7 linked regions of the Homo sapiens genome follow. The protein of the gene in region 6 purifies or fractionates together with the protein of the main gene of each other region. This does not show direct contact. Each region holds a gene or a part of one and is shown on either strand. Other genes may lie near its edges.

Region 1 (4,387 bases), on a different chromosome or scaffold from region 6:
TGGGGGAAAAAAACAATATGATGGGTTAAATTTTAAAAAGGAAGAAAAAATTCTATGGAGCAAGATATCAGATTGAAATCGGAGTGAGGCCAAAATTTACTCTAGCTTCCTGAGGGCTAGACAAGGAAGTTTTAACCTTAACCCAAGGATTCTAAACTCTGGCTACACATTAGAATTGTCTGAATATTTTAAAAATATTTATGTCTGAGCTTCAATTTAACTGATGTGAGGTGGGACTCAGTCATTGACATTTTTAAAAATCTCCCCAGGTGATTCTAATATACAGTCAGGGTGAGACTCACTGCTGGGCCAGAGAAATTTAGGAAATGTTTCTTAGGAGAAAAACTATATGATACATGAAACCTTTTAAAAAGATTAATCAGCATGAATAGATATGTGGAGAGGCTAGGGATAGGAATTGAATAATTAAAATGTCTATGGACATCACAGATGAAAATAACTGTTTTAAGGTCTATGCTTTTTTTTTTCTTGAATGCCAAAAAAGCTGCTGTGAAGCCTTTGTTGCTAACAGTGAATTTGTTCAGACAAAAAACTTAGGAACATTCAAATAATTAACATTACAAGGGAACATTTTACAAATTACACATGAAAGTTACTTAGAAACAGAGGTTAAAATGGCAATCACCATTTGTTGAATGACGCATGAAAAGAGTTGCTAGAGGAGGTAAGTTTTGAATAGAGTTAAAATTAAATTGTAGAGAGAGAACAGATATAAAATATTTTTTCATGCTAAAAGGCTTATAGTGATGGATATATGGATTTAAAGTCATGCCTTCTTAGTTGTCACATAGCTATTTATTTTAAACAAATAAAAATAAATGAGATAATTTATATCTTCAAAATGTAATGACAGTGCTTTAACATATATTTAAATATATAAAATGATGGTCTTGAAATGAAAATAGAGTGAACACAATATATTAAAATTCTAAAACACATTTGCTTTTAAAAATGTCTAACAGTAATTTTCTAACAGATTTTACTTTGAGATAGTAAAGGTAGCATTTCATTGATGAATAGGAAACATGGCATACTAGTTTTGAAAAGAATAGTCTCTTTGCTTGTAATGTAATGAAATCGATGCATATATTATAGTTTTATTTAAGAAGAAAAGGTATATATCAATGATGAACCTTTTCTGGGGGCACAACAATATCTTTTTATCAAAGTAGAAACCTTAAAACCTACAAAGTTATGTTTAATAAATGGCCAGACAGCAATACTTACAAATATTGCTTGCCTTGAGTCTAATAAAAGATTTAGAAAAGAAGTAAGAAAACAGGAAGTGGAAAATGTCTTATTTTCACATGAAAAAGTTGTGTGAGGAATATGGAAAACTGTCATTTTAATATGTTCACAGAGAAAGGCCAAGCCATAATGTAATATCTTATGTTCTATAATTCATGTCAATTTCCAGGTAAATTATTTTAGATAACCTGTTTTTTAAAAATGCTTTCTATTTAGTAGAAAAATAAGTCAACTAGTATTTTAAGACACTACACTTCTGTTTTTTTCAGTTTTATCTATTTCAAATGTATCACTTATAAAGGTAGTTCATGTGGTAGCTAAGGATATGGGGAATGGTTCCCAAAAGGCTGGGCAACAGCACAGCTTTGTTGGGGGAGGAATTATGCTTCAGTCTCCTCTTCCTTAAGTGGAGGTAGTTAATAATATCCATGTCACAGGCTAATATGTGTATAATATATATCAAACTCTTAAATAATATCTCACCCAAATAGCACCGTATAACTTTTAGCTACCAAAGTCATAAATGTAATAAATAAATATTGCCTAAAAAAGGTAAAAGTAAAATTACTAAATTTTATATTTCTTTAGTTTTAGTAAAAGTGTTTTAACAATTTGTTTATCCTGGGACAATTAAAAAATCTTTATGGTAAAGACTCAATCTTAATGCATGTATCTCTGGGTGTGGACCCTTGTTAGCTCAAGTGGTATTCCTTTATTAGGCTCATAGCAAACAGCCATGTCTCTCAATGGACACTCTAAATGTGGAGTAGTTTGTCACAATTATTTGGTAATCTCTTTCAGTGTAACTCACACAGCAAAAGTGACAATATTCCTGTCACTCCTCAGAAATGTCCCAGCTCCACGGGTTTCCACATTCAGGAGAATGAAGAAAGCCATTACGAGGTATGCCATATATCTATAGAGAACATGTTAGTACTGATAAATTTTCATTTTCCTCATGATTTTAAATACTCTATCTTAATTAGTATTATTGTCTTTGCCCATCTCTTCTGTGGTCACATTTTTATACTAATGTTTTTGAAAATAATTTTAAGTAAATAATTTTAGAACAAAAATCCAGCGATATATATCTTTTTTTTTCTGTTGAGTAATGATCCAACTCTCAAACATAATGTTAGTAACATGGAATGAAAAGTACTGATTTTTACCTATTTTTAAAGAAAGTAATAAGCAACTTTCTTTTAAAGCTAGATGTTCTGGATTGATTCATATTTATTAATTGAACTAAAAGAAAGGCACAACTATTTTGAAAGGTTAATTCGATTCATCTCCCATACTGAGGAAAATGAGAAAGACATTGCTGCTTAATATGACTAGTTAAATTTGAATTTTAATGAAGTTTTCCTTTTTTTTTACTACTTTATATCAGTTTGATCTTTTATTTCCCTGTATTTTTGAACTTGAAAGACATTACTTTCTTTTTTAAAAAAGTTAGTTCATCCACATTAAAAGGTAGAAGATCCATAGTTGTTCTTTTCTTATTCTTTTATGTTGGAAGGGTTTTTCCAGTGCCAATTATTCCAGTATGGCTGGGTATAGAAATCTACTATCTTTCATGTATTTTTTTTTAAGTCATGGTAAAAAAACACATAACATACAACTTACTATCTGAGCCGTTTTTAAGTGTAGAGTTCAGTCGTGTTAACTATTTTTGCATTGTTGTGAAATGGAAGAAGATTCCCATTTTTAAAGAATTATGTTTTAATAGTTAACTAATATTAAAACATACATACTGTTTCACGTATTTTTTTACAGCTGTAACATATAGACTGTAGAAAGAGAGGTAATGCATGTGTATGCGTATGTGTGTGTGCCTGTGTGTGTATTCTGTTTTCTTACAGAACGTAGGTCCCCTCCATTCCCTTCAAACCTTTTCTTAATCATGATTAGTAAAAAAAAAATTGTAATAATTATTGCTTTTGCCATCTAAAGGAATCTATTATTTTCAAAAATCCCACTGGTAATGTATATTGAAGAAACTACTTTGATTAATATAAACTTAATATAGAAAGCAACTTCTTTTTAGATAAAACATTAGTGGAAGTTGAAAGAGGATTGAGCAATATTTCGAACAGCTCTATCCCCTAATTCTCTGCATATTTTTATTCTATTTCTTTTTCTTTGTGTGGGTCTAAATACTTAGAAATGATTTTCTAAACTTCAGCATATATACTTTTTTATATTTTTCTTTCTTTTTTTATCCAAAGCCTAAATCTCTTGAACATTGAGAGAAGAACCATAGTTTCCAACCCTTTGATTTTTTCCTCTTCACTGTGTATGTTTCAACTATCTAAGATAATACAATTGTTCCCATTAATTACCAACAATAACACAATAGTTCTAATTGGATGGCAGAGAAAAATTTTTTCTCATAAGTAAAGATTAAGGTAAATAGTACAAAACCCTACCCAGGATGTTGTGCAAGTCATTAAGATCCAAGTGGATTTCAGATTTCTAAGAATTATATTTATTTTTATAACATTTTATGTTTGTGTTTATTGACTTAACCATACTCCTCAGAAACCATATTCCTCAGAAAATCCCTTTGATTACCAAAGGTGGTGAGATGATTTATTGGAGATTTTCGTATTTTTCGTAGAGAATATAAATGAGACATAATTCAAATAATTTTCTATAAATCATACTTTTTTCTCCCTTAGATATTTTATAAGGTCCGAAGCACAGGAAGACAGCTTGCACAGGGTTTGACTAAAGGTCTAGGGAATTTGAAGAAAAAAAATGACATCTAGAGTTATGATGTTTATTTATATTATTAGTCCATTTGTGAAAGAACAGTGAAAGTAAATCTACTATAGTTTATTTATAAACAAAGAAGACAAAATATTTTTATAAATCTTTCATTCCGTAAATTCTCATTTAACCATCATTCTCCAGGCCCATTTTCTCTGAATGGTTTTGAACTAGGTTGTCTGGAAGGTCCTACCCATCCCTGATGATCTGTGATACTAAATAATGATGACGATATTGACAACTTATGCTTATTTAACAGCATAGTTTTCTACAGTTAAATATCTTTCTGTGTTAAATAGTACCTCATACTCTGTGCTAGGGACTGTTTCAAGAAGTTTATATGTAT
Region 2 (4,387 bases), on a different chromosome or scaffold from region 6:
TGTGGCCGAGCACAGTGGCTCACGCCTGTAATCCCATCACTTTGGGAGGCCGAGGTGGCTGGAGCACCAGAGGTCAGGAGTTTGAGACCAGCCTGGCCAACGTGGTGAAACCCTGTCTCTACTAAAAATACAAAAATTAGCTGGGCATGGCGGTGGGAGCCTGTAGTCCCAGCTACTCAGAAGGCTGAGGCAGGAGAATTGCTTGAACCCAGAGGCAGAGGTTGCAGTGAGCCAAGATAGTGCCACTATACTCCAGCCTGGGCAACAGAGCCAGACTCCATCTTTAAAAAAAAAAAAAACAAAAAACAAAACGTATTCATGTAACCAAACACCACCTGTTCCCCAAAAACCTATTGAAATTTTAAAAAAGAGAAAGATAACGCTTATGAAGTACACATTGTCTTTCTGTCATACTGCCACCTAAGTTATAAATATTTATGAACAACTATAGTAGGCCAGATATTTGTGATATGTTATATAACTACAAAGAAGTTGTTTTTTTAATTGTTACTCATTTTTATCTCTGTATTTGTTTCAAGTTTACTAACCAAATAACAAAAACATTTCCTCCTCCTTACACAGAACTACCTTACTCTTCTGGATGATGAGGATCATAAATTGGAATATTTGAAAATCCAGGATGAACAACACCTGGTAATTGAAGGTACAAGATGGAAGCATGCATCTATATTAAATTTTCAAGGGGAAGAATTTAAAGAGTTACTAATAACCCATTTTATAATTTTCTCCAAAACAACTATTATTTGATTATTATGTTTTTATGATAAAGAAACCCTTTGGAAAAAAAAGAAAAAGAAAACCCTTTGAACTCTTATGTAATCCTACCATACAATTTAGATTGCTTTAAAGGGAAAATATTCTGTTTTTAGTCATTGACTGACAAAGAATGGGAATGGTAGATAAAAAACAAGTGAATTCAGTTTACACATTTATAGTTCCTTAAAATTTTCAAGTTGCTGCTTTGAGTTTGAGTAAAAAGAACAACTTTCTTGCATAGTTAGTAGCACAGGCTTTCATTAGTCACCAACATTGGCTACTCACTGACAGAGCTATTTGTATATTCATAGATTTACACACTGGCATGCACATGCCATTAAAAACTTTTTAAGTGTATCTTTTCCCATCAAGTTTTGTGGCAACATTGTTAGCTGCCTTTGTATTAAAATGAATAGGCCGGGCGCAGTGGCTCACGCCTGTAATCCCAGCACTTTGGGAGGCTGAGATGGGTGGATCACTTGAGGTCAGGAGTTCCAGACCAGCCTGGACAACATGGTGAAATCTGTCTCTGCTAAAAATACAAAAATTAGCTGGGTGTGGTGGCACGTGCCTGTAGTCCCAGCTACTCAGGAAGCTGAGGCACGAGAATCAGTCAAGCCCAGGAGGCGGAGGTTGCAGTGACTCAAGATCACATCACTGCACTCCAACCTGGGGGGACAAAGCCAGACTGTCTCAAAAAAAAAAAAAGGAATAAATTACTCTGACAGTTGTTACAATTTAAGAAAGAATTGTAATTTCTAATGTTTTAAGTATAAGAAATTCCATTGTTTCTGAACTTTAATTACTTCTGTAGATGGTTGAGTATAATTTTACTTCAAGTAGGTAATTGAGGGATAAGATTATTCAAACCAAGTGACTTTAAAGTCCTCAATATGAAGAGTAGGAATGGTTTTAGAGCCAATTACAGGCATGTGCTGCAAAAAGATGTTTGTCAACAAAAGACCTGTATACAGCAGTGGTCCCATAAGATTATAATACTGTATTTTTAGTTGTGCCTTTTCTATGTTCTAACATGTTTAGATACACAAATACTTACCATTGTGTTACACTTGCCTACAGTATTCAATGCAGTAACATACTGTACAGGTTTGTAGCCAAGGAGCGACAGCCTATACCATACATAGCCTAGGTTTGTGTAGGTACACTCTGTGATGTTCACACAAAGACAAAATCACCTAATGATGCATTTCTCAGAATATAACCTCGTCGTTAAGCAATGTATGTACTAAAATTAACTAGATTTTAAAACTTCTGATTTAGGAATAAGATGTCTTTAAAAAAAAAAAGCAATCGAATGGGTATAAATTAGATAGATAAGAAATTAACACATTCCTATCTGTCCTTCCAGTTCGCAACAAAGATATGAGTTGGCCTGAGGAGATGTCTTTTATAGCAAATAGTAGTAAAATAGATAGACACAAGGGTAAGTCTCCAGTATTATTTTTTAAAGAGATTATTTTAAATGTATTCTTTTTTTTTCTTCTCTCAACTGTTAAAGTGCTAACAACTTTTGGTTTTCTAGTTCAAAAGTAATTAGGGCCTTCTTCTTTTTCTTTTTTCCTGAAGCAGCATTTGATGTTGGCAAACCCACCATCAAATTATTTTCTAAATTTCTTTCTAACTCTGCAATTAAATAATTTATATGTTTTAAAAGACATACTAGAAGAAGAATTGTTTGAATTATTTTGAAAAATCATAGCAATTAAAAAGAATAATTGCTGCTTCTGGGTTACAAATGAGCATGGATCATCACTGTTGCCAGACACTCCATGAAAAGCCTTCTCTAGCATTTCAGAGACCTGCTAGAGAATTATTAGCACCATTTAGCTGATTATGAGAGTTATAAAAAACCTTTTCATTGAATATAAGTAACTGTTTGTGCCATGGCATATTACTACAGCTAAGCTTTGGTTCTCATATTGTTTGTTCCAGTTCCCACAGAAAAGGGAGCCACAGGTCTAAGCAATCTGGGAAACACATGCTTCATGAACTCAAGCATCCAGTGTGTTAGTAACACACAGCCACTGACACAGTATTTTATCTCAGGGAGACATCTTTATGAACTCAACAGGTAATCTTTCTGGAGTCACTGGCCTCTTAACCTGTGACTTTGATATAAACCCAATATCACCTAAATTTCCTCTTTTTTCACCCTGTGGGAGAAAGATTTTATCTTATTTGCCCTATTTAATATGAAATAGGCCAAGGAATACATCTCTTGTTTCAAAAAGAAAAGATATTTTGATGTGAGATGCTAGGCATTTTTGCGCCCACATGATTGTGATTTATGAGAATCTTTGGCAACAAATTTTCCTCTCAAACTTCTAGGACAAATCCCATTGGTATGAAGGGGCATATGGCTAAATGCTATGGTGATTTAGTGCAGGAACTTTGGAGTGGAACTCAGAAGAATGTTGCCCCATTAAAGCTTCGGGTAAGCAGGTTAAAATAATATAAAAGTATTTAATTCCTAATAGTTGTTTAATCATTTTTCTCTGCTTGTTTTTTGTGTTTAGCCTTTTAACTTAATAAATGTTTTTGGATCCTTCACTTGGTATAAACAAAAGGTCAAATTCTTTTGCTTGTTTAAATATATGCAAAATTACTACTGTATATGTAGTGGGTAGGATAAAGACCAAAGGTACACTCTAAATTCGGGATGTCATTCATTTTACTAATTTGTCAAACATCTTATATGAAGAGTAAACCTTTTTTGGTAATACTTCACTATTAGCAGTATTCTAACTGCAAGGTGGACCTCAGAGTCTTATTAATTACATCCAATCCAATCCATTTTCAACGTAACTAAGATAGTTCTATCTGTAGAATACAAAGAAGTAGGCTGGGCGCAGGGGCTCACGCCTGTAATCTCAGCACTTTGGGAGGCCGAGGTGGGTGGATCACTTGAGGCCAGGAGTTCAAGACCAGCCTGGACAAGATGGCGAAACCCTGTCTCTACTAAAAAAAATTAGCCGGGCATAGTGGTGCATGCTTGTAATCCCAGCTACTTGGGAGGCTGAGGCACGAGAAACGCTTGAACCTGGGAGGTGGTGTTTGCAATGAGCCAAGATCGCACCACTGTACTCCAGCCTGGGCAACAGAGTAAGACTCTGTCTCCAAAAAGAAAAAAAAAAAGTAGAAGGATGAATGAATGAAACTAATGAATATAAGTTTTATATTAATATCAGATGTAGTAGATTTTAGTGAAGTTAGGATTATTCATTATTTTTATTTAAATACAAAGCAAAAGCTTTTTATATTACAAATTATTAACTATAACAGCTACACATTTGACTACTTACCTCTTGCCAGGCACTATTCTAATTAATTTATATCCTCAAAATAATTCTATAATATAATGCAGTTAATAAAATTTAGGATGCAACAAGACCAGAAAATGTAATTGTTGAAGACAACATTATATTATATAAAATAATGTATACACATATTATTTTATACATGTTATGTATTATTATATACACATTATTTTATGCATATGTTATGTATATACTATGTACCTATAAAATATACATATTTTATATGCATATAAAAATGTAAAACGTTATAGAACAGGATGTCTTTCAATGTG
Region 3 (2,186 bases), on a different chromosome or scaffold from region 6:
TTAATTTTTTTCTTTTTTTTTTTTGGTGGGAGCAGATCAGTGATTTTTTCAGTTCATACCAGACCACAGCATTTTCCCACAGCAGCCTTGATGTGTTCATCTCCTCTTTTAGAGACAGGGTCTTGCCCTGTCACACAGACTGGGGTTCAGTGGCACAATCATAGATCAAACATTCCTCCTGCCTCAGCCTCTCAAGGAGATGGGGTAACAGGCGGGTGCCACCATGTCCAGTGCATGTGTGTGTGTGTGTGTGTGTGCGTATGTATGTATAATATAATATATGTGTGTACATTTATATATGTATGTGTGTATATATATATTTAGAGATATTTGTGTATGTGTATATGTAGTTAGAGAGAGAGAGATATTTAGAGATGGGGTCTTGCTGTATTGTCCAGGCTGGTCTTGAATTCTTAAACTCCTGAGCTCAAGCAATCCTCCTGCCTCGGCCTCTCAAAGTGCTGGGATTACAGGCATGAGCCACTGTGCCCAGCCAAGATTTTTTTTCACCTAGAAATAAAAGTCAGTATTATATTTTTTTGCATATACAGTTTTGACTTGTAAAATGGAATCACCTCAATTGTGCTACTTTAAATATTAAGCATAGTTTTTACCTTAACTAAACTTTCAATAAGCTTGACCTTCTTTAACCCTTAAAGAATTCAAAATTGCCAGTCTTGGTATTCTATATAATGTATTTTCTGTCTTTCACTTTTTTAATATGATGGAAAATGTTGACTAGTGTATATTGGAGTGTCTTTTTATTTTTGGAGTCTAAACTGATTATTGGTGAGAATAAACTCCCCAATGTTAGGATCATTATTGCCTTCCTAATGGCTTCAACAGTCACATATAAATATCAGGGAGAAAGGGTGAGAATGCATAGAATGAAATTCTTAATTACTCTTAGTGAAAAACCTTTTGAATTTAATGGCTCCTTTTTATGTTGCATAGAATGTCTTGCTATTCTTAAAAGGCATGTGAATGAAACATAATAGTAATAGCTCTGCCATATTTTCACTAATACGTATGCTTCATTGGTGTAATCACTGTTTATCTTGCACTAGCCTGTTGCTTTTTATGATCATTTAAGTTAAAGTGATACAGTCAACTTTGTGATATTTTAGTGCTTTTAAAATAAAAAGAGTGTTTCCCTCATCTGCAGGTGCTGCTGTTTTTTCAAACGAAGGAAAAGGAAAACCATACAGCGCCACAAATGACTCTGGACACAGACAGATCCTGGGGAGTTACTTACATGTTCATCTGCTGTCTTGTGATTAAAATCATCTCTGTAGTGACCACGTATATTTTCAAGGACTCACTCTTAGAAACAAAAATGTCATACTTTCATACTTCATTTTGTGGTTGTCTTACATTCTTTTTCTTTTTTTTTTTTTCTCTAATTTAACCTTTATGGAAGCTTTAAAGTTTTGTCAAAACATGAGTGCTTTGCCCATCAGTGAATGGAATGGACCAATGAGGTGGTATCAATGAATATAGTTCCATAGAACATTTTCCAGAAGTTCTTCTGTTGTAGAAAGCAGTACAGTATCTTAAGTGTCAACCAGTTATATACCTAATCTGGTTTTTTATAACTTCTGTAAGAGCATAATCAAACAGGAATTTTCTTTTCTCAGTGGATAATACAACAGAGAAAACAGAGTTGCCCAAATATTTAAAAGAAGTTATTCCTTGAGAAGTTCATATTTTGTGACATCTGCATTGATTTCAGTATTACTGATGGTACTGTTATTCATAAGTCATATTAACATTCTCTCCGTGAAATCATGGTACAGTCACTGCCCAGAGGTACTGAGGAAAAAGCAATATGGGTTCGGCAGATGGTGGTGGTAAAATGAATCTTAAGGAGTGTGGTAAATATGTGCTCCGCTTTTGTTGCATCACTATGTGAAGTACTGTGTTGCAGAAGTGGCAAAAGCGCTTATTTTTAAAAATGCAAAATATTTGTACAATGTAACTTTATGCTTCCAAATAATAATGTATGTTAGACAGCAAGAAATGAATACTTTAAAAAGTGATGTATGTTGGAGTTATAAAGAAATACACTAAGGAGAGGTAGTAAATGTGAACCTTGTTGCAGTGTATAAGGTGGAAGCCTAAAGAAATCTCACCGAAACTTACTGCTGAATGATTACATTCTCCCTTAAGCAGAAAACTTTGGATGT
Region 4 (4,387 bases), on a different chromosome or scaffold from region 6:
ATCTTTCTGGCAAATGGGGTGCATGATAAGAGCATCTCTTACGAAGAGTTGGAAAAACAAATGCCATATATAAATTCTAAGCCATATGAGGACGAGGAGTAATGGCATTTTCTTCCTTTTTCCTCTCACTCCCAGACATTCATTGTCCCTGAATGCTCCATTAATCCAGGGAAGGTAATTGCCTAAATCTCCAGTGGATCTCGCAACAGGAAGGAACCAGAAGCTGGGAAAGTTGTTTACCTCTTTGTCCCAGAGTTAGACCTCATCCTCCCCTAGCTTAGCTGTCTCAGAGATATACTGGCCCTCCCTTCTCTTCTCTTTGCTGCTGGTGCTAAAACTGCTCTGTAGGTCATTGGCCACTGTCTCCACTCACAACCCCTGCTCCAGTCCTGGAGGGAGTGGGTTAAACACAAATAGAACATTCCATTTGAAGCAGTGATTCTTTTTTTTTTTTTTTTTTTTTAATCAAATGCTTTGGACTTTTGAAGTCCACTTGTTCTGTACTTGTAAAAGGGAAAGAAGGCCGGGCGCAGTGGCTCACGCCTGTAATCCCAGCACTTTAGATCACTTGAGGTCAGGAGTTTGAGACCAGCCCGGCCAACATGGTGAAACCCCATCTCTACTAAAAATACAAAAATTAGCTGTGCATAGTGGTTGGCACCTGTAGTCCCAGCTACTCAGGAGGCTGAGGCAAGCTAACTGCTTGAACCCAGAAGGCAGAGGTTGCAGTGAGCTGAGATCACGCCACTGCACTCCAGCCTGGGTGACAGAGTGAGTGAGACTCTGCGTTAAAAAAAAAAAAAAAAAAAAAAACTAAAAGGGAAAGGTAATAAATCTCACTTAACATCTCCCTTCGCTCCCTGGGCCTGCCTGAAAGTTACACGGGAGCAACGTGCGTGGCCACATCTCAGCTTTGCCCAACTGACTGGTGTGTCGTTGGTTTGTTCCAGCATTCGGGGATTAATAGCTCGGATGCGGAGGTGCTGACCCTGTTCAATGTGACAGAGGCCCAGAGCGGGGAGTATGTGTGTAAGGTTTCCAATTATATTGGTGAAGCTAACCAGTCTGCGTGGCTCACTGTCACCAGACCTGTGGCAAAAGGTAATGGGGAGATGGATGGGACCCTGTGCTGGGGATTTGATGTAGGCCCCAAGCTGCTGGGGCAGGCGGGGAAGCCAGTACTGGACTGTCCTTGCCACCCTACTGTATTTCTAGTGCCCAGAGCCATGGAAAAATACCCGGCCTGGGAGGCTGGTTTGGTTTGGTATTGTGTTGGTGTCTGTGGGTTCCCTCTCTGCCTTCTGTGTGTTCCTTGGCTTTGTGTGGATCCATGTGAGGACTCACGGGGACACGGTTTTGCTGTGTTACAAATGGTACTTCAGACTGAAGTTGTGAGTGAGTGGTGATTAAGAGAAGGGGCCATAGGCCAGGCACAGTGGCTCACGCCTGTCATCCCAGCACTTTGGGAGGCTGAGGTGGGAGGATCGCTTGAAGCCAGGAGTTTGAGACCAGCCTGGGCAACATAGCAAGACCCCATCTCTACAAATTAAATAAATTAGCCAAGTATGGTGGCGTGTGCCTGTAGTCCCAGCTAGTCTGAAGGCTGAGGCAGGAGGATTGCCTGAGCTTAGGTCGAGGCTGCAGTGAGCTATGTTTATGCCACTGCACCCCAGCCTGGGTTGACAGAATGGTACCCCATCTCTTAAAAAAGAGAGAGAAGGGGTTAGGCATTCCCTTGCATACTCGCATCTGCTGGCTGTGTATGCACATGTGCGTGTGTGTATGCGTGTGCATGTGTGTGTCTGCAGCCCCCGCCATCCCTCCTGTGTTCACCTTCTGGCTATCTTTACCTGAAACCAAACAGCCCCTGCCCGCCGGCCCCATTTCTCCATGCCGCTCACCGCCCGCATGCTCGGATGGGCCAGTGGCTGCCAGCATCTGGTGAAGGGTCGTAACCAGCCATCGTCTTCTCAGGTCTGCCGGAGTTCTTCCCTCAGGGTCTCACCCTCTTCCTCTAACAGGTTTTGCTGCCTGGTGGTTTTCGTTTGTTCCTTGTTGCAAAGAAGATGTCAGGGAGCATTTCTTCCTCTAGTCCCCCTTCTTTCTGTCTCCTTCCCTTGCTCTGCGTCTCTTAGAGGTCTCATGTCCTGTGCTTGTCCATTTTGCTTCCGTTGTCTCTTCTAGACTGCTGGAGTTAATACCACCGACAAAGAGATGGAGGTGCTTCACTTAAGAAATGTCTCCTTTGAGGACGCAGGGGAGTATACGTGCTTGGCGGGTAACTCTATCGGACTCTCCCATCACTCTGCATGGTTGACCGTTCTGGAAGGTACACACTGTAACTTCTCCTCTCGATGTCCTGCCCTCGCCACGGGCACGGGGGGAGCATGCATTTCCAGGCTTGGGGAGACACAGAGGCAGGAGAGCTGGAAGAATGGGCTCCTGCCTGCCTGGTGCCACATCCTGCCCCAGCTTTGAGGGCTGAATCCTCTCAGCTCAGAGAAGAGCTTCCCTAGTTTTGCAGGCGCACGGAGGCCTCCCACCCGTACACCTGCCTCTGCTCTCCCCCTGGCCATTGCAATGCATGCCCGGGATCTGGGTTTACCCTGCAGCCCGACTCCTCCAGGGCAGGCTCCTTCCGTCCTTGGGTCCAGCAGCCTCCCCCCTCCGCTGGGTACTGAGCATCTGAAAAGTCTCAGATAGGGCCCTACACCTCTTCTCCCTTCTCAAGTGCTCAGCCCAGGGGTGGGGCTTGCTGCTTGCAAAGAGCAGCCCACCCTCCTGTACTGCCATCCTATTGCCTTTGAAGAAGGAGGTCAGCCTGGACAGGTGAACTGAGTTGCCTTCAGAAAGGCCTGTCTCAGGCAGCCGCAGCAGGCTTCACGATGTCCATGTATCCTGTTTGCCTGCTGCCGTCTCTCCTCTCCCAAGAGGGGAGGTCTGCGTGTTGAGCCAGGGAGGAAGGAGCCTGCAGCCTGCTCAGGGTGGTGGCTGGTGACTGCGGGGCCAGGGCTTGCTGCTGTCTCTCGGAATGTCCTGCATGTGGGTCTGGCTGTTCCTGCTGGCACTGCCCTCTTCTCTCTCCCCTCCTTTCCCACTCTGCCCTGCTTGCCCGTCAGGGTCTCCGGATGCCCCTGCTGGAGGCAGAGAAGCGTTCTGTTTTTATCATCGTCCCTGTCTTGGTCCTGTCCGTGCTCCCCATGTGCTCCCAATCAGTTGTCTTCGTTCCTCAACATCAGGGAAAGAAAAAACAGCAACACTTCTCCCTGTCATCAGCTCTGCTGTCTCCTTGTCAGGCCTTGGGACGTTCTCTGGGCTCAGTCTAGGGTCGTGCCTCATGCCTCATGCCTCTCTGGGAAGGTTCCCAGGGGCGCCGCCTCCATGGTTGGCTGGTGGGTTTTAAAGGGGAAGGTTGGGAGGAGGCCTGTGGAAGGAGGAGGGCCGTCCACACCCGTGGGGCAAAGCGTGTTCCATGAAACCAGTGCTGTGCGTGCTGGGATGAAAGCCTCCCAGCCTCTCGTGCTGAAGGGAAAGGTGGACCGAACTGGCTTAGCTGCTGTGGCAATGGGGTGGGGGGTGAGTCCTAATCAGAAGGTGGGAGAAGAGAATAACAAAATGGAACTCCGCCCCCTGCCGCCACATTTCCTTAAGTTTTAGGAGTTGGGGCCTATGAGTAGAATTTGAAAGAACTACCAAAAAAGCTTATTTTTGGAAATTAAGTCAGCTTTGCCTGTGGTTTGGCTAGGAATAAATATTTACCTGTGTGCCCCTACAGAGATGACACAGACCCAAAGTGGGACATTGAGCAAGGCACAGGCTGGTTCCCCTCCTGTCCTCTGTCCTCATTCTGTGAGTGCCACCATCACCAGGTACTGTGGCCTGCAGAAATAAACGAGGCACCAACCCTGCCCTCAGGGACCCCGTGTCTTCTTAGGGACAGAGGACTCAGAAACATCTGTGTCCCCGCATGTTAAGTGCATGCACACAGTGCTGAGGCTTTGCAGAGAAGGGCCATGGCTCCCTGAGGAGACCAAGAAAGGCACATAGAAGTGACTTCTCAGCTGGCCCTTGCAGGATCCCTGGGTGCCTGTACCTCTCCAGTCCAGCTGAGCAAGGAGGCTCAGGAATTAATGAAGATGGGGCTTGTGTAGCACGATGGTTCTAGGCCATCCCTTTTCCATGGCTCAAGTCCATTGAAGGCAGCCTCCAAAATCAGGGGGTTGCCTGATCCTCCTAGTGCCACAATCCCAGTCCTAGCTAGAACTTGCCATGGTTCTTCTCCCTAAAAGTTCCCAGGGGACAGGAGACAGGTGTTGCTTTTCTAATGGAGCGGGACCTCGCATGGACGGGGCCCTCCAAGCCTGCTAACACCCTGTTCGCACTGACT
Region 5 (4,387 bases), on a different chromosome or scaffold from region 6:
CCCTTCGTAAGTTGATGAACATTGTTGGCTATTATGGATAATGCTACTGTGAAGATTCATGTACCAGTTTTTGTGTGAACTTGTTTTCAGTTCTCTTGGGTATATACCTTGGAGTGGAATTGCTTGATGTTAATATAAATCTGTGTTGCTGTTTTTGTTTGAGACAGGATCTCACTCTGTTGCTCAGACTGAGCAACAGACTAGACTGGACTCACTGCAGCCTTGAACTCCTTGGCTAAAGTGATCCTCCTGTCTCAGCGTCTTGAGTAGCTGGATCACAGGTGTGCCGCCATGCCTGGCTAATTTTTAAATTTTTAGTAGAGACAGGATCTTGCTGTGTTGCCCAGGCTGGTCTCAGACTCCTGGCCTCAAGTGATCCTCCTGCCTCAGCCTCCCAAAGTGCTGGGATTGCAGGCTGAGCCACTGTGTTTTCAGCCTATGTTTAACTTATTTTGAGGAACTGCCAAACTTTTCCACAGCAGCTGTACCATTTTACATTCCCACCAGCAGTGTATTAGAGTTCCCGTTTCTCCACATACTCAGCACTTGTTATTGTCTGTCTTTTTTATTATAGCCATCCTAGTAAGCATGAAGTGGTATTGAGTCTTGGTTTTGATTTGCGTTTTCCTGCTGACTTAATGATGTTGAGCATTTTGTGTCTACTGGCCTTTTGTATATCTTCTTTGGAGAAATGTCTGTTCAAATCATTTGCCCATTTTATAATTGGGTTGCCTTTTTATTGTTTAGTCTCTCTTATCTTGTCAGAATTATTTAAAATATCTTCCCCTAATTAATAACAATTAGATAGAGAATTTTTCTTGAATGTAAATAATTTGGTGATGTTAGAATAACAGAGTTTATATTTACAATATATAAAGTAAATGTACAGGCCACACAAACTTAATGATTATTTCTGAACAGCAGTAAAATAGCATACTCAGCTGTTTACCAAAAGAAATGTGCTTGTTTACTTTTTGTAATTATACTGCCTTGTTTTGGTAGGATTTAGGGACTATGCAGAAGTAGTGGGTTGGTAATGAGAGCTTTAAAAATTGCATTTTAAGGTAAAAGTTTTAGCAATTAACTCTAAGATAGAAGTAGTAAATAACATTCAAAACTAGAGTTCAAGCATTGACCCAGAATTTTCTGATATTTATTTTTAATAACTTAAAGAAGGGACTTGAAACTTACAAGAATTTTCTTGCTGTTTAAATATGACCAAACCAAGAAAAAATTAAGTAGTGAAAATACTTGCAACTTTATGGACTTACTGGATACTTCAGCATTATTTTTCACGTGCTTTGTTTGTTTGTTTGTATGAATTCTGAGGTGTATGTTGATACCTTTTCTCATATATAAGGATTTATGGGTTTTGTTTAGTGTAGGGTTTTTTGTTGTTCTCTCATTCTTAGTAAATATAGATAATCCAAGAATGACTTTTAAGTGCCTTTAGGTCCTGCCATTTGCTACAGTTATAAATGTTGCCCCTTGCTTAGCCCTAATCCTAGCCCCAGCTCTGCTATTGCTTAAAAACAACTCATTTTAGAACTGCTTAGTGAGGAGGGCGGTGGTGAAGCTTTCTTGCTGATTGGGAACTCAAATAATAGTTTAAATCTGTAGGGTATAATGTCTTAAACGTGTTAAATTCAAGTTTGTTTCTATTAGAATTAGAACTATATATGATTTCTGTGTTGGAGATTCATAAAAATGTCATATTTATTTTTAATAACAATAGGACCTAGATACAGAGGAAGGTGATAAGGAGGGAAAAAAAAACGCTCTATTTTATTTTATTTATTTATTTATTTTTGAGACAGAATCTCACTTTGTCGCCCAGGCTGAAGTGCAGTGGCTTGATCTCAGCTTACTGTAACCTCCACCTCCCCGGATCAAGTGATTCTCGTGCCTAAGCCTCCCGAGTAGTTGGGACTACAGGTGCATGCCACCACACCTGGTTGATTTTTGTATTTTTAGTAGAGACGAGATTTTACCATGTTGGCCAGGCTGGTCTCAAACTCCTGACCTCAAGTGATCCGCCCACCTCAGCCTCCCAAAGTGCTGGGATTACAGGTGTGACTTGAGAACAAAACCTTAGTAGCACCTATTTGTAAATAAATGTTTTCTTAAAATTGAAGGTCATCAAGGCCAAAGGCACCATGGCAGATTGTGACATATCTGAAGTAGGAAGAGTTTTAGGGTTCTTCTGGGGAGCCATTCTAGTCTGCTCAGCACATAGAAGGGAGCAAAGGTAATCAGGAAAAGAGTAATGGCACACTCTGGGTGTGAGAAAGTGAAAGGTCATCTGAATTCTCAGGTGATTGGATTATTTATTTCTTAGCGATGGAGGCATAGGTAGTTATAGGTAGTTCTGTATTAAACTCTACTTTGTATGGCCTGTGTAGGTAATTGTATAGCTGTATTTGGAAAAAATGCCATTTAAATCATATTTCAGCCGGGTATGGTGGCTCACGCCTATAATCCCAGCGCTTTGGGAGGCTGAGGCAGGCGGATCACTTGAGGTCAGGAGTTTGGTACCAACCTGGCCAACATGGCACAACCCCATCTCTACTAAAAATACAAAAATTAGCCAGGTATGGTGGTGCATGCCTGTAATCCCAACTACTTGGGAGGCTGAGGCGGAAGAATCACTTGAACCCAGGAGGCAGAGGTTGCAGTGAGCCAAGATGGTACCACTGCACTCCAGCCTGGGTGACAGAGTGAGATTCTGTCTCAAAAAAATAAATCATATTTGAAGTTTAGTAAAATTGGTCAGAAATTATATGACAGGAAAAAAAATCCAGTGTCCAACAGCTATTTATTATCTATCACAGTCACTCAAAGGATATCCCCCCTACCCTTGCCCAACATCTCTGTGCACTGAGAGCAGAAGTTCCCAGATCTGTCCCAGTTTTCAGATCTGTCTCTCTGAGTATCCCCTACAACCCAGATTCTGTGACAGTTAAATTGGACTCGGGCTTCCACTGACCCAGTTGATGGAAGAGACTGAGCATCTTTCCAACTCTAACCCAAACGTGACAATGCCGCGTATTCTTTCAGAAAGTGTCAGGAAAGAGCCCGAAGATCCCTGAGCTCCAGGGACATGGCAGGGAGGCTGCACAGAAGGGTTCCCAGGGGTGGAAAAGGGGAATCTTAAAAATAAATTTTGGAACCAAGTAATCAATTTTATAGCACACTCTAGTTCTAGCGCACATGGTTCCTCCACTTGTTAGTGAATGCCTGACTTGTTGCCCCTGAAGTGTAAAAAGATGTATATTTAAGGATTCCATTGTTCAGCAAGTTATTATGCATGCAGATGGCAGGCACTAAGTGCTTACTCTTTTTGAAGGTGATTGCCTCTCCCCGCGATCCCCCTACATTGCAGTGTTTTGTTTTAAACAGCTTTCTTGATGGAGCCTAATCTTATCACCAGCATTATAGAAATAAGCCAGAGTGAGAAGCCTGTACAGTGAGGTCTTGGGATTATACCATAGTCATAATGGTGTTTTAAATTGTTTTTATTTTTCAATTGAAAAAAGTACACTATTCTAAAGTAGTGAATTTTAGTGGAGCAAACTCTTCACCTGGAAGTGTTTTTTTCCTTACCAAAGTGAAAATTGGTGGTTCTAAGAAGGCTGGAATTTATTTGCACTGTCATCTTTTACTATGGTGGGGGATGATCAAATTTAACATTTCCAAGTTTCCAGGAGACAGGCAGCCTATCTTATAAATATTGTCATAGAAGACCTCTTAACCTCTTTGTTCTTTGGATTTCTGTATTTCTTAGAATTGTCATGCTTCCTTTCTGAGACCTAAATTATGCAGGGGTAACGTGATTACTTTGACACCAAGCTCAGGAAATATAAAACGGGTTAAGTATAAACCAAGCTAGGTTTAAATGAAGTTCATTACTGGCTACAGTATATTAAGGGAACATATTCGAAAAGTCTGTATTTGCCTTTGTTCTTGCTGCTGACTCTTCTGCTTCTTTTGGTGACCTTCCCACAGCACAAGAGTGGTTAGGTGTGAGGAGGCTAAGAATACCTTGCCAAGAGCTTCAAATAATGTTAAAACCAGTATTTTAGGTGAACCATGGTCCCAAGAACTCTATTTAAGTAATTCCTAGTTCGGTGTCCCAGGAGCATTTGGCTTTACTGCACCTATTTTGGCCACATGTCTTTGTTTAAAAGGAAAAATTATCTTAGGTTATAATACAGCTATTTTGGGAGTACCTTAAGTTTAACATTAGATTACTAGGATTCGAAAAAATGTACCCAGATGGTAGATGCTGATGAGAATTTGACACAAGAATTCATTTGAAATTGAAGCTTTTGTAGTATTAGTCAGAAAAATTTATTGACATCTGGTTTTGAACAGCATAGTGAGTGGA
Region 6 (4,387 bases):
CTACCTTTGTGAGTGCGGTCCAGAGCCAGCCTGCTTGTCCTCTGCTGGCTTTGCTCGTTGTGAAGCTCCAACCTGGATTGATTTCCAAGAACCAGGGTTGGTGTTGGGGTGTGTGGTCTCCCAGCAGCCGTGATGGTGCTGTCCCATTTTACAGATGTTTCTCAGGTCGGGGCTGTGGGCTGGCTCGGGTCCATCGTCGCTGGTTGTGGCAGGTTGGGCAGGAGCCCAGGGCTCCTCTGTGTCCCTGCAGAGCTGTGGCTTGGGCTGGGCAGGAGGTACGGGAAGTCATGCCTAGGGTCTGGAGCTGAATTGTAGAGGAGGAGCGTGAGGCCTGCTGGGAGGTACACAGTGTGGGGTGGGAGATGGGCCGGGGCAGGGCCACCTGCCTTAGGGAGTTCTGTCGGCTCTATGGACCTCAGCGTCTGTTAGGTGGTGTGCCTCAGCTGGCTCGAAGCCTGGCCCTAAACCTTGCTCCATGGGCGCTCGGTGGGTTGCTTTACATTTGGGAACGTGGTGGTTTGACTGGGTGAGGGTGGGACGGGGGATGCCCGGGAGGCCTGGACCCAGTGCTGTGGTCCTGCCGTCCCCGGTGACTGCTGGAGGCCAGCCTGCCCTCCAGGCCTCGGAAGGCCTTGCTCTGCTCCTCCACTCTGGCTTGGGCTGAGGCCCAGGAGGGGCCCGCCTAGCTCTCCCCAGCAGGGGAGCCTGTCCCTACCCGTGGCTCTGTGCCTGACAGCGCTCCCTGCCTTCTAACTTCCTCTCAGTGGCCCCTGTGCCCCCTCCCCCAGCAGACTGTGGAGTCTTCACCAATTAGCTCACGTGTCCTTGGGAGCCCCTGACTGGACAGACGAGGGGACAGTGCCATTTTATAGGTGAGGCCTTGGAGGCCTCAGTGCTATTGATGCGGCTGTGAGGCAGGAAGGGCGGCCTGTGCGACAGAGAGTGGCCATCACAGGTGCCTCCATGCCAGGGCCTGCCTGCGGGGTTGCCCCTTGGCCAGCAGCTGGGATTGTGGCTTTGAAACGATCCCTAAGAGAGGAGGTTGCTTTGTGTGCCAAGTCCCGCTGTGCCACCTGCCCCCACAGTTCATACAACCAGTCTGGTTTGCGGGAACCACCCATCTTCCAGCTGGGGGGTCTGGAGGCTTGGTAGGCAGAGGGTGCCCATGAGCCTGGCCCCAGTGAGAGCCCCGGGCCCGGAGTCTCAAGCAGAGTTGCTTTCCGAGCAGAAACACTGCATGTGCCAGCTGTGTTTTGTGGCTGGGACCCCTCTCAGGAGGGAGAGAGGATAGGGACTCCGGTGTGGATGCCCCCTTACCAATGGCTGTGATTCGCCACAGCCACGAGCACAGTGCCACTGAGTCCCGTGGGTGGCTATGGGCGGCCGTGGGCCCTGACACACAGCCTCTAGAGCAGGCTTCACGAAGGGTCCAACCTATCTCACCCTGGCAGCCTGGGCCCCTCTGCTCCTCCTGCCCCTCCTGCCTCTGCCCCGTAGCCTCACTGCTTGCACAGTGCATGGCAGAGTCGGCTGCGAGCAGGCGAGGTGGCCTGAGGGAGGTCACTAGGCTGGCTGAGGGCTTTTTGCTGTGGTTCTGAGCCGGCCTGCTTCCAGGCACCGTGTCCATGCGGGTGAGCGGTCTCCCTGGGTGCCCACTCTTGCGCCCGGAGATCCTGAGTTTGGTCCTGTCTGGCCATGAGCTCAGCCTGCTGGGAGGCCACAGGGAGATGCAGGCTGGGCGGCGGGTGGATGGTTCCAGCCGGTTGGGTCCGGGGCCTGGAGCTCAGCCTGTGGGGTGGGGACCCAGTGGTGCCCTGGAGCTGCCGCTTCTGCTCTTAGCAGGATGATGGGCAGGACAGGGAGAGGCTGACCTACTTCCAGAACCTGCCTGAGTCTCTGACTTCCCTCCTGGTGCTGCTGACCACGGCCAACAACCCCGATGGTGCGTGCAGGGCCAGGGAGGGACCGTGGGGGTCGGTGAGCCCAGCACTGGGGGGCCGGTTTGGGCTGCTGAGCCTTAGAACCCAGTGGGAGTTTCTGAGGCCTTTTTTTCGATAAGTGGAGAAGAAAGGGTGACATTTTCCTTCCTCCCCTTCTTTTCCTATCTCTTCTTTTTTTGTCTTGGTTTTCTTCTCCCTCTCTCTTGTCCCTTCTCTTTCCTTCTTTCCTTTTCTGTCTCATTCCTTTGCTTTCTCACTCCCTCCTCCCTTTTTCTTTTCATCTCCTCTTCCTCCTTGTCTACTCACTCCTCTGAGAAGCTGAAAGTGGCTGGTGTTCTTCATAGGGCGATGATGGCAGTGGTCAGAGGGGTCTCCTGGTGCCGTCCTGCTGGAGCTCCACACATCCACGCTGCGGTTGCTGCCGAGGTTCAGCTGTGGGAGCCACTGGGCAGCAGCATGTGAGGGCCAAGGGTCTTACTGGCCACGACGCTCACCCTGTGTGATGCTCATGGGGCCTCCACTGCTCAGGTGCAGGTGTGGCCAGGATGGAGGCCACGGTCCTGGGCTTGGCTGTGGCCCAGCCACCCTGGCTGGTGCCTTTCATCTTGCGGACCCTGAGTGCTGTCTCTTGTGTCCTCTGAGTCCTAGGAAGTGACCGCAGTGGGAGCAGGACCGTCTGAGTCCTAGGAAGTGACCGCACTGGGAGCAGGGCCGTCTGAGTCCTAGGAAGTGACCGCACTGGGAGCAGGACCGTCTGAGTCCTAGGAAGTGACCGCAGTGGGAGCAGGACCGTCTGAGTCCTAGGAAGTGACCGCACTGGGAGCAGGACCGTCTGAGTCCTAGGAAGTGACCGCAGTGGGAGCAGGACCGTCTGAGTCCTAGGAAGTGACCGCAGTGGGAGCAGGACCGTCTGAGTCCTAGGAAGTGACCGCACTGGGAGCAGGACCGTCTGAGTCCTAGGAAGTGACCGCAGTGGGAGCAGGACCGTCTGAGTCCTAGGAAGTGACCGCAGTGGGAGCAGGACCGTCTGAGTCCTAGGAAGTGACCGCAGTGGGAACAGGACCGTCTGAGTCCTAGGAAGTGACCGCAGTGGGAGCAGGACCGTCTGAGTCCTAGGAAGTGACCGCAGTGGGAGCAGGACCGTCTGAGTCCTAGGAAGTGACCACAGGGGGAGCAGGACCGTCTGAGTCCTAGGAAGTGACCGCAGTGGGAGCAGGACCGTCTGAGTCCTAGGAAGTGACCGCACTGGGAGCAGGACCGTCTGAGTCCTAGGAAGTGACCGCACTGGGAGCAGGACCGTCTGAGTCCTAGGAAGTGACCGCACTGGGAGCAGGACCGTCTGAGTCCTAGGAAGTTACCGCACTGGGAGCAGGACTGTCTGAGTCCTAGGAAGTGACCGCAGTGGGAGCAGGACTGTCTGAGTCCTAGGAAGTGACCGCAGTGGGAGCAGGACTGTCTGAGTCCTAGGAAGTGACCACAGGGGGAGCAGGACTATCTGAGTCCTAGGAAGTGACCGCAGTGGGAGCAGGACTGTCTGAGTCCTAGGAAGTGACCGCAGTGGGAGCAGGACTGTCTGAGTCCTAGCAAGTGACACAGGGGGAGCAGGACCGTCTGAGTCCTAGGAAGTGACCGCAGTGGGAGCAGGACCGTCTGAGTCCTAGGAAGTGACCGCACTGGGAGCAGGACCGTCTGAGTCCTAGGAAGTGACCGCAGTGGGAGCAGGACCATCTGAGTCCTAGGAAGTTACCGCAGTGGGAGCAGGGCCGTCTGAGTCCTAGGAAGTGACCGCAGTGGGAGCAGGACCGTCTGAGTCCTAGGAAGTGACCGCAGTGGGAGCAGGACCGTCTGAGTCCTAGGAAGTGACCGCACTGGGAGCAGGACCGTCTGAGTCCTAGGAAGTTACCGCAGTGGGAGCAGGACCGTCTGAGTCCTAGGAAGTGACCGCACTGGGAGCAGGACCGTCTGAGTCCTAGGAAGTGACCGCACTGGGAGCAGGACCGTCTGAGTCCTAGGAAGTGACCGCAGTGGGAGCAGGACCGTCTGAGTCCTAGGAAGTGACCGCAGTGGGAGCAGGACCGTCTGAGTCCTAGGAAGTGACCGCACTGGGAGCAGGACCGTCTGAGTCCTAGGAAGTGACCGCACTGGGAGCAGGACCGTCTGAGTCCTAGGAAGTGACCGCACTGGGAGCAGGACCGTCTGAGTCCTAGGAAGTGACTGCAGGGGGAGCAGGACTGACTGTGGGGAGGGCTGCAGGGAGGTTTCAGCTCTGTGTGCAGAGGGACATCCTTGATAGGTAGGGAGTTCCCCGTCCTGGAGGGTGTGCGAGCAGAGGCAAGAGATCGAATTTGGACAGGAAGGCCTTTCAGCCCTCCCAGGAGACCTCCTTTCTTTTTTTTCCTTTTCTTTCTTTTTTTCTTTCTTTCTTTTTTTTTTTTGTTTGAGATGGT
Region 7 (4,387 bases), on a different chromosome or scaffold from region 6:
CAGTGGAGCTGTCAGGACTGGAGGCCATTGCTAAGGAGCAGGCTCTGGAGCCAGGATTACCCGGGTCACACTTGGGCTCTTCCATTGTGTGACTGTGTGACTGTGTGGTTTAAAGTTTTAATCTCTCTGGGCCTCAGTTCTCATATGTATCAAATGGAGATAATATTACTTACATTGCAAAGCTGTACCAAGGTAATATGTAGAATATTTAGCACAGCACTTAACACAGTATGAAGTACCCAATAAATGTGATCTAATTAATGTAATTAATAATGTAATGCTTTTTTTTTGTTTTTGAGATCGAGTCTCGCTCTGTTGCCCAGGTTGGAGTGCAGTGGTGCAATCTCGGCTCACTGCAACCTCCACCGCCTCCCAGGTTCAAGCGATTCTCCTGCCTCAGCCCCCTAAGTAGCTGGGACCACAAGCACATGCCACTGCACCTGGCTAATTCTTATATTTTTAGTAGAGACAGGGTTTCACTATGTTGGCCAGGCTGGTCTCGAACTCCTGACCTCAAGTGATCCTCCCGCCTCGGCCTCCAAAAGTGTTGGGATTACAGGCGTGAGTCACTGCGCCTGGCCAATGCTCTTTCTAGTGCATCACTTATTTAGCGTTTCAACAACAACAAAAAAACCCTCCTAAATAATATCGTTTTCAATTATATTATGGTAGAATAAATAATAAAACAGAAAATCCTTTATAAACCATAGCCACAACTGTAAAAAAATTAGATGTCCAAATTGCTTGGCATATTTACAAAGCCTTATAATTTCAAGTAGCATAAAATTTGAAATCACAAACTCTCATTCTTCCTTTAATACATACTGGCCTCATAATTAAATAACTTTGAACACTTTATCTCCAAAAATGATTTTTTGAAAGAATCCCCAACATAAAAATAATTCATGTCAAAAAGTTAAAATAATCTTTTCTAATACTGCTCAGTTACTTTATTCCTTCAGTAAATATTTACTACAAAACAGGCATGCACAAGGTACTGTGCTGAGTGCTGGGAAAGACAAAATAGAATCAAACACTGTACCACCCTTGTGATGCTTACAATTGATGAGATGAAACAGAAGAAAAAAACCCACAATTAAAATATGCTGATAACTGTTAGGAAAAACAAAAGAAGAGCATTTAAATTAGACTTGGGAGATTAAAGAAAACAACATCTGAGTTGAATTTTGAATTAGGAGTAGCAGACAGAAAGGAAGCATGTACTTCATTCCAAGCTGAGGAACCAGCAAACAGCAAGGCCCTGAGTTGGCATGGCATAGCTCAGCATCGGCTCTAGGTCCAAAATCCAGATGCCTAATGTCATTGCTTTCATTTACATCAGTCTCTCACGAATGAACGTTTTCTATTTCTAACAACTATAATGCAAACCCGTGCTACTTCAGGCACTTTTCTACCTAAGTATTTTAAACCCCTCTGATTTATTTAGGAAAGAATGATTCCATGTTCTAGTTTTCTCAAGTATTAACTTTTTTGACTTTAAAATAATTACAAGTGAGTGATTCTATTAATTTTGCCCTTCAGAAAGAATACTTAACATGGAGTTAGAGGGGAAAAAAGCTTACCAATCATGTTATCTAAGGAAAGGTCTGGGAGTTTATTCTGTAGCACTCCTACAGGAATTCCACAGAAAGACACTGGTGAATATAAAGGTGACACACCAGAACTACTGCAAAGACATAATAATTAGAAGGTTTTACATACTTAAAATCTGCATTACGTATTAGGAATTCAAAGTATTAAGTCCAGATTATGGCATTCTATCTATTTTTATATTATTCATTCATCTTACCCATAGGTGAAATAGCTCTAGCAGATTTACATAATTCCCTAATAATCTAAAGCCTTAATTATTACCTTAAAAATATTTTTATAGAAAACCAGCCCTCCTATTTTTATGATTATGGAAATTTTTTATAAAAGGAAACAGGAAACAAAAAACAAAACCATGATCCTGTTGATTCATTTACCTGTTCCGTGAATTTCGATTACAAACTGCAGACTTGAGTTCCCATATCATGACCCTGCCATCACTCACTACGAGGGCGGCTGCATTCTCATTGACAGGACAGCACACCATACTGAAGGGACGGACGGTTTTTGTCACCCTGATTGCATCACACTGGCTTCGTAAATCATAGGTAAGCTCCTGAACTGGATCTGGATCTTCACATAAAATTGTTTTAAATATCAGAAAGCAGCCATATCGATACCACTACTGTTTGTTTCAATTTAAATAAAACCTCAACTAAATTTGGGCATCACTCCTTCATGAATGCAATGTCAAGCATGGCTTCACTTTTTACAATTACTACTAAATTTTTTCCAAATATAATTTACTTAATGACTGTACTAAGTTTAATTTCCAAAATAACAACTATAATCAAGATATCTTTTTTCAATATTTTAAAATAAAGACGATACTTTGAAAAAGGATCAACAGTGATATATAATTAATGAATAAATTTCCATCATAATTTGTAGTAGTCTATAAGCCTGAAAATAACTGTACTTTCCAAAAGATGTGAAAATCACTTTGATCTTTACACAGTATATAATTTCACAAAAACATTATTTCCATTCTCCAAGATAAGACTGACTTGACAACTGAGACTTAATAACCTCTGTCACTTTACAATGGAAGTTCTTACAGCCAACAAGTCAAGGGGGTATAATAATAAAGGCACACAAGGTTGGACTTGTACTGAAAAAAAAAAAAAATTCCAAAAAATAATATCTACTTGGCTCATGGATATGATCAAGAAACACAAAATTTTACTCTCTTTGATGTATACAGGAGGTGCACTGTTTTAACATCAAGAGATTAATCTTGGGCTTATACTTTTTATGCCTCTTATTATAACCATATTTTAAACTTCCTCAAAGCAAGGAGTATCATTAACTATATACCTTGGCTGGTATTTGCCACATCAAGCTTTATAAAATAATTTTGAAGAAAAATATAACATTATTGTGAGACAGAAACTCACCTGGTTCCTCATTTGAAGTGGTAAAAATGTTATTATAAGATCTTCGAACACGTAAAGTTATACAACCATTTTCATGTAGACAAAATAAACCATCACGCTGAAAGCAGGGTATTACCTTTAAATAGATGATATATTTATTTTTTAAAACACAATAGATTAATAAAGTATATACTGTGAAACTCAAACTCATATTTAGATAATATGGGCAAAAGAAAAAAAAATAGACAAATCCCAAACTTTAAAACTAAATGTACATTTAAAATATCCATTTATAATCCTAAAATAATTTGTCTTTACCCATGTGACTTAAATAGTTCAATAAATATCTCAGGATCAGTCACAATTTCTAGGGTAAATCAAACCAATCAAAAGTGCAGACAAAAAAAACAATCTAAAATAGTGTTGCTAGTCTTTTGATAAATTGAAAAGAGAAAGTGGAGAACTGAAGACAAGACTTATGCAAGATTATGGCCTTCTTTTAATATAACATTCTTAATAATTTTGGGGAATATAATTTATGAATTGTAGATACCTGTAAAAATGGAACTCCTGTGCGTTCTATTGCAATCACACCCACCGTCTGATTCACCTCAAGGTCAAGGATTAAAATCTCTCGAGGATAGAGCAACAACATGTGATTCCTTTTTGAAGGCAGGTATGCCAACTGAAGGCAATCATTGAGAGTTATGAATTCAGCACTGAAAAAAGTAAACATTCACTTGGGTCAAAGACTTCATTTATATCAGACCTAATAAAAGATTTAATTTTGTACTTTACACATAAAAATTGACAATAAAAATGTACAACTATTCCCTGAAGTGACCAACATGGGTTGGCATCCAAAACTTAGATCTCTACTATGTACCAAAATCCAAATGCTAATAATATTGTATAGGATGGGTAGAAATGTCAGTGTTTCTAAGTTTTTGAAATATTAAGTAGTAGAATATTAAGTTATTAATATTACACAAGACATGGTAAATGATAATATAATAATAGCTGGCATGCATAAGACAGTTTTATTTTACTTTTACTTTGTCATTAAAAGTACTAGGCAAACTGTTAAAATCAAGACTCAGGATGAAAAACATCAACATTTAGGGTAATTAGGGCCCCTGGACCAGGAGTTACTGGACTATCTGTATGGCTTTGGGCAAGTAACTTCCCCTTGGCTGCCTTCATTCACTTTTAAGCTGTCTTAAATCTTTTTTGAAACAAAGTTTCACTTATATTGCAGCATTTTCTTGTGTGTAAATAAAACAGGTGAAACTATAAGGATTTTAAGAGATTGTTAGGGTCTGAAAAATCATTTTAATAATTTGTGATTGTTGCATACATTCAATGACCTTTTCTATATTAAATATATTTCAATAGGAATA

Evidence for each region.
Region 1: the proteins of TPCN2 (region 6) and PCDH9 purify together in Homo sapiens (affinity purification with mass spectrometry; 2 studies listed by BioGRID and IntAct, with this or other methods). This does not show direct contact.
Region 2: the proteins of TPCN2 (region 6) and USP32 purify together in Homo sapiens (affinity purification with mass spectrometry; 2 studies listed by BioGRID and IntAct, with this or other methods). This does not show direct contact.
Region 3: the proteins of TPCN2 (region 6) and CSNK1G3 purify together in Homo sapiens (affinity purification with mass spectrometry; 2 studies listed by BioGRID and IntAct, with this or other methods). This does not show direct contact.
Region 4: the proteins of TPCN2 (region 6) and FGFR1 purify together in Homo sapiens (affinity purification with mass spectrometry; 2 studies listed by BioGRID and IntAct, with this or other methods). This does not show direct contact.
Region 5: the proteins of TPCN2 (region 6) and NDFIP1 purify together in Homo sapiens (affinity purification with mass spectrometry; 2 studies listed by BioGRID and IntAct, with this or other methods). This does not show direct contact.
Region 7: the proteins of TPCN2 (region 6) and WDR11 purify together in Homo sapiens (affinity purification with mass spectrometry; 2 studies listed by BioGRID and IntAct, with this or other methods). This does not show direct contact.

What each region holds. Positions count from the first base shown.
Region 1 is NC_000013.11:66,901,289-66,905,675, reverse strand, and holds part of PCDH9 (protocadherin-9 isoform 1 precursor), read left to right. Parts: intron 1-2,070; coding exon 2,071-2,172; intron 2,173-4,387.
Region 2 is NC_000017.11:60,209,858-60,214,244, reverse strand, and holds part of USP32 (ubiquitin carboxyl-terminal hydrolase 32), read left to right. Parts: intron 1-582; coding exon 583-664; intron 665-2,146; coding exon 2,147-2,221; intron 2,222-2,730; coding exon 2,731-2,869; intron 2,870-3,126; coding exon 3,127-3,232; intron 3,233-4,387. UniProt on the Homo sapiens protein: Deubiquitinase that can remove conjugated ubiquitin from target proteins, such as RAB7A and LAMTOR1.
Region 3 is NC_000005.10:123,613,177-123,615,362, forward strand, and holds part of CSNK1G3 (casein kinase I isoform gamma-3), read left to right. Parts: intron 1-1,165; coding exon 1,166-1,220; 3' UTR 1,221-2,186. UniProt on the Homo sapiens protein: Serine/threonine-protein kinase. Casein kinases are operationally defined by their preferential utilization of acidic proteins such as caseins as substrates. It can phosphorylate a large number of proteins. Participates in Wnt signaling.
Region 4 is NC_000008.11:38,419,739-38,424,125, reverse strand, and holds part of FGFR1 (fibroblast growth factor receptor 1 isoform 1 precursor), read left to right. Parts: intron 1-2,184; coding exon 2,185-2,329; intron 2,330-4,387. UniProt on the Homo sapiens protein: Tyrosine-protein kinase that acts as a cell-surface receptor for fibroblast growth factors and plays an essential role in the regulation of embryonic development, cell proliferation, differentiation and migration.
Region 5 is NC_000005.10:142,125,224-142,129,610, forward strand, and holds part of NDFIP1 (NEDD4 family-interacting protein 1), read left to right. Parts: intron 1-4,387. UniProt on the Homo sapiens protein: Activates HECT domain-containing E3 ubiquitin-protein ligases, including NEDD4 and ITCH, and consequently modulates the stability of their targets. As a result, controls many cellular processes.
Region 6 is NC_000011.10:69,065,664-69,070,050, forward strand, and holds part of TPCN2 (two pore channel protein 2), read left to right. Parts: intron 1-1,839; coding exon 1,840-1,942; intron 1,943-4,387. UniProt on the Homo sapiens protein: Intracellular channel initially characterized as a non-selective Ca(2+)-permeable channel activated by NAADP (nicotinic acid adenine dinucleotide phosphate), it is also a highly-selective Na(+) channel activated directly by PI(3,5)P2 (phosphatidylinositol 3,5-bisphosphate).
Region 7 is NC_000010.11:120,864,366-120,868,752, reverse strand, and holds part of WDR11 (WD repeat-containing protein 11), read right to left. Parts: intron 3,707-4,387; coding exon 3,541-3,706; intron 3,124-3,540; coding exon 3,009-3,123; intron 2,185-3,008; coding exon 1,989-2,184; intron 1,688-1,988; coding exon 1,584-1,687; intron 1-1,583. UniProt on the Homo sapiens protein: Involved in the Hedgehog (Hh) signaling pathway, is essential for normal ciliogenesis.